2 separate regions of the Homo sapiens genome follow, and region 2 is linked to region 1. Evidence: fine-mapped expression QTL. A gene starts in region 1. The other region holds a variant in brackets. All regions are shown on one strand. Distances are from middle to middle.

What was found. PIP is the estimated chance that this variant, and not a neighbour inherited with it, causes the effect.
Region 2: its variant is the best candidate, but not a certain one, in a credible set for the expression of CPO in whole blood (TOPMed, PIP 0.87).

Annotation. Positions count from the first base shown.
Region 1 is chr2:206,938,076-206,940,907 of GRCh38, reverse strand. It overlaps CPO (carboxypeptidase O), which reads right to left and starts at 1,390. Exons shown (of 9, transcript NM_173077.3): 1 at 1,241-1,390. The coding sequence starts at 1,308.
Region 2 is chr2:206,790,103-206,792,934 of GRCh38, reverse strand. It overlaps FASTKD2 (FAST kinase domains 2), which reads right to left. Exons shown (of 12, transcript NM_001136193.2): 11 at 2,249-2,363; 12 at 1-1,252. The coding sequence ends at 1,133. Among named protein-coding and RNA genes, the nearest start is that of MIR3130-1, 8.2 kb to the right of the region's middle. The variant T/C (reference allele first, on the strand shown) is at 1,248.

The sequences.
Region 1 (2,832 bases):
ATCACAGAGATCCTGGACTCTGTAAGTATCTGAAATTGAACTGAAGATAAGGAACAAGCTGAGGTCACACAATTATTGTGGGACAAAAATTGGAGTGGGTTTCTATGTTATGTGAGAGCAAGTTCATTGCAAGATTTCTTTAACCATGAAGCAAAAGAGGAAATACCAATTATAACCACATATACTTCATGAGATATGCTAAATGAGCAAAATAATGATTTGCATATGAACAAGGGAAAAACACACTTTATATGGAAACTATACACACACACATACACACACACAGATTTCAATAGAATGTATTTAGAGAACTTATGATTCATTAAGAGTAGGGAGAGACCACAAAAATGGGCAAATGACATTAATGGGCAATTTATAAAATGATAAAATTAGTAATAAAATATTTACTCTTATAAATCAACAAAATACAAAGGAAGTCAACAATGTGTATTTTTTACTTGTCAATTTGCCAAACACTTAAAAAGTGCTTTCATACACTGTTATTGGAAGTGTAGACTGATGTAATCTTTCTAGAGGGTAATTGGGCAATGTGTAGCAAGATCCTTACATTTTCCTCAGTTACTGACCCAGTAATTCCACTTCTTAGAGAAATAATTAAAGATTTGCAAAAAGCAAAAAAAATTATGTAGCTGGTTGCTCATCACAGCATTATTTGTAAAAATGAAAAAGCAGGAATTGACTAAATGACAGAATATTATTAGCAATTTCAACTGTTTTAAATAAATTGCTAATGCCATAGGAAAATTTCTGTAATACAATTTAAGTGAAATATTTCAGAAATAGTGCTGCATACATAATCAGGTAGCTATCTGAAAACATTAATAGTACTTATCTCTAGGTGAAATTATTTGGTCATTTTAACATTTTTCTTAATAATTAGGATAATGTGATTTACCAAATGAGATACTATGAAAATGAAGGATATAGAATTTGTATTACAATTTTCTTTTTCCAATCACAAAACATGACATGTCTATTTGTATATCTCATGCATTGTGTTAGGAAATGTTTGCTAGATATTTATTCATTTATTCAAGGATTATTAGAGGATTATGATTATTCAGTGATAAATTTCAGTGGTCTTTATTATTCTCATCTCATGGTGGTATATATGAGTAGCAAGGAAGGAGAAGCCAGCTGCATTGGTCTTAAAAAGAAACCATTCAATTTAGACAATCTAAATTATAATAATCAGTTCCTCTTCCCACTTTACACTCACCTATCATATCCCAGCCCTCCAGGAACCAGCATCCCCAAAAGATAAAGGGTTTCAAGCAGAGGCTTCATTCTGCCACACAGTAAGTTAGAAAATTCTGGGCCTCTCTGGCAGTGGATCAAGTGTCCTTGAGAATGAATGCATCAAGACTGTGGCTCCCACAATCAAGATGAGATAAATCAGTTAGTGGATGTCTCAGCAGAAAGTCACGGGCAATTGCTTTATTAACTCTCTCATGTCCTCAAACACCTTTTCCAGTGTGGGAAATGCTGTACCATTTGATATTTCATTTCTTCTCTAAAACCAAATTTACGTGAGCTCTCAACTTCACCAGATCCTGAAATAAATTTCCTCCCTATGTAAAGTCACCTTGGAGTATTTCTAGGAACCCCCATCACTCGTGCTCAGGAGCAATCATTCCTGCTCTTCCCCTCACACAGGTTGAATGGGAATAGTAGGCTAGTCTTTGTGAATCATGAGCCTGTTCATGAGACCAGAAAGAACACTCTGCTCTGGTCAAAATGGACATGGTCATTATTCAGAATCTCCACTTCCTCCTTCAATCTAAGGCTTTGATTGGGGTCAAATGCCTTCTCTTTTTCTGATGAACCACATCACCAGCTTCTTAAACAAACCCAGATCTCTTCAAATCTGAGCAGTGAAGACAGTTTCAATCCTTTCCCATGTGGATTTTACCCCACGCCCCTCTTACATGAAGGACTCTGTCAGATACTCCGCCATGTTTTCAGACATAGCCAAGTTATGCTTGAATCTCATTGACCAGTAAAATTAAAGACTCATGTTAAGACCATTGCTAATAGTCTAACTGAGCAAGGCAAACTTTAGCGCAGAGCAGGTAGAGTATTTAAATGGAGTCCTTGGCATTTAGGGACCCAGTTTAAATCTTCTGCCCTGTATTCATGTATTCATTCTACAAAAATCTCATGAGTACCACTGTATACCAGACACTATGCTAGATACTTAAGATACAAGGGTGAACAAGGCAGAGTCCCTTCTTTTATGGAACTCACAGTAGAGTTGAGAGAAAAATAAACGAGTATACAAACAAATGTTACAGTTTCAAGTAAAGAGAATGCAGTTAAAAAACTAGAGGAGATAAGCGCTTCCATGCTGTCTCCAGGCATGCCATCCACCCAGTCCCTCCATGTGTTTAGCAACCCAGAGGCTCTCCAAACTCTGTTCCCTTGTGTTTTTATGAAGACTTCATTACATAGGTATGATTGATCATATCATTGGTCATTGGTGATTAAATAAATCTCCAGTCCCTCTTTCCTCCCCAGAGATGGGAGGGGATTACTGAATAACATGGCTGATTCTCCTGGCAACCAGCCGCTATCCTTAGAAACTTTCCAAAAGTTACCTGTTCACTTAAACTTAGACATAGTCAAAAGGGACGTCATGAATAACAAAAATGGCCCTTTCACCTTTATTGATCTTATCACTGAGGAAATTCCAAGGGTTTTAGGAGCTCTGTGTCAGGAACCAGGGACAAAGACAAAATATGTATTTCCTATTGTATCACAATATCACGATGGTGTTTAAAGCCACTGGGCTAGAGGAGTTCATCTAGGGTG
Region 2 (2,832 bases), 150 kb after region 1:
GTATTTTCTTATAAGCCTATGTTAGCTCACATTCAAACTCCAGCCCTCCCCTACTCTGTGTAGCCTTGGGCAAATACCTATCCTGATTTTAGAGATGAGGAAGTGAAGACACAGAGAGAATCATAATAGCAGCTACACCTCAAAGGGTTCAGATCATGAAAAGGCAGCACACAAATGAATACTTAGCAGTGCCCGGCACATACTAAGATGTCTAGTAATTGCATGTCTGTGTGCTTGGGGGCAGAATAACACCAACTTGCATGGAACCCATGCTGTAAGTTCCACAAGAGACCATGCCTATTCATCACTATATCCCCAGCGAGCCAAATACTAGGTAGACAGGCATATTGAACAAAATAGTTGAATTTGGACAAATATTTGAACAAAGAATGAACACACATAATCGAAAAAATAGTCCTCAGGTCTGATTCACAACACAATTCAGCTATATATTTAATTTAAAAGACTTCATGAAATTGTGGGAGGGGTAAGGGGGAAAAAAGAAAGAGAAAGGAAGGACCCCAACAACAGTAAGACTCCTTACCATCTACATCTCATCTGTGTTTCTCTTATTATAACCCATGAAATATCTCTACCTGCAGTGCTTATTACAAATACAAATACCATCCTCACTCATTTTCAACAGCTACCTCACTAATTCTTACACACTTGACAACTTTAGAACTTTGTCCAATTATTATTTGGCCAATGCTTGAAAATGATTTAAAGGCATAACCCCAAGTCTTAGAACAGCTTAGAGCAGGAGTATAAATATTCAGATTCCAAAGACAAGGACTACTACCCACATCAACCTGCCTGTGACACCTCACAACTAAGAAACCAGTTTTTAGTAGATCAAAGATGAAAAGGTGAAACGTACAGCTCACAAATCAAATATCTGGGCACTAGAGGGAATAGGTGTGGTTGGAAAAATAACCCTTCTGGAATTTTCTCAGCATATTTTTAAATGGCAGTAACAACATTTCTTCCACTCCTAAAATTAATTTTAATAGTGAACTGAGGTAACATTTTTTGTCTTAGCAGATAGCTCAATTCCATTGACAACTGACTTGTCATCTTTATTAATTTTTACAAATGCATGTCTCCTAATATGAAAAGGTTGATTTTCACTTTATTGTGTGCTTTGCACATTTACAGCAGCAACAGGAAGAGCTTCTACTGAATAGATTTTAGTCTTCAAAAATGTGACTGCATCTTCCATCTCTAGTTTGTCCATCTCCCAGTTA[T/C]TGACCTTACCAAAGAAAGAGGAAAATAATCAGTTTGTGAGACGATACTAACAAAAGAGCTAGTTTAGAGATCCAAACATAGTAAAGTAACATGAGGACAATAGCTTTTTGAAAGCAAATGTGACCTTATAACTACTCATATTTTAAAGGCATAATAAGACTACATGCTAGGGTTTAAGAAAGCTTTAACTGTGAAAATTATACAAATTTTAAAGGTCCTCTAAATGGTGCAAAAACTGCTTTCTTGAGAAAATCTTCCTTAGAATATATATAATCAGCAATATAAAAAACAAAGTCTTAAATAGTAGCCCACTAAGAGAAAGGAGTCATCTTAATCTCAATAGTCCACACGTAATCCATTTCCAATACTAAAGTATAATAATAGAAGACTTGGAATGTTTACATCTTACATTATGCGCAGGACCAAATGAGTGGCATTTAGATAGATTCCAACAGCAACATATATATAAATGTATTTGTAAGGTTCCTACTACCTAGAAACATCAGAAGAGGCTGTTCAAGAGAAGCTGTGGGGTACAAAATAAAATTGAAGCATAAGAGGGAAGAGAAAGACCCATCTTCTTAAAACCATCCAGCCTTTTCTGGCAACAAACATCCTGTAACAGCTTCACACAGGCCATGAAAACAAAGCTTTAACATCTTTCCTTCCCTTGTTCAAGATAACCTGGAAATTAAATATGGTTTTGTGTATCTTAAATATGAAAATATATTATTTGCATTCTTCTTCTTAGCAAAAAAGGATTAAAGCTGACCAGAACAACATTTGTAAAAGCTCTAGTAATGACAGTAATCAGCTGAGCAGAACCCAAATCGTGTACTAGCAATGTTCTTTTTCAAAGAAAACAGTAACTAAAGCACTCATTCCAATAATGCTGACAATTCCTCTAGTCCTAGTAACCAGTCTCAACCACAAGATTCCTGGCAGCTGTTAGAATGTACATCAGTAATTAAAGAATATTTCATTTGCATTTTTTTCTCACCAAGATCACATGAAAACCCATTGCATTCAAATGCCGCATTTTCATAGCAAGGAATCCTCTGGGGTGGCTTGAACCCAAACAATAAGCAGATCTGGAAACACATAGCACAGCTACTCTGAAAACAAAAATAAACAAAACAAGAACAGTTATTGATATTACTATTTAGTCTTGCTGCATTCTTGTTCTCTGGAGATTTCCAAGTTGAGCTCTCCACCGACCACAATCCTTGATATTCCTGTCTTAGTCCTTCACTTCTTTTACTTGGCCTCTGCAGATATTCCACTATACAAGGCTACTTTATAAATCAAAAATATACAACATTATACACAGTTACCTCTCAGTTCCCTTTAAGGATGGCTACATTTTTGAAGAGGAAAATTTTCAGACATGAAAGCACCAATTTTAAGGGTTTTCTGTGTAGTGCTGATTTCTGATCTGAGTATAATTATTTATTCTACCAGTAGTAGTAACGGTGTAAATAATACCAAATAGTAAATGCTCTTCTTACACATATCATCTCCCAGAGAAAGCAGCATTTAAAAAACAGAAATAGGAGTTTAAATACAAGAAAGAAAACACCAAGA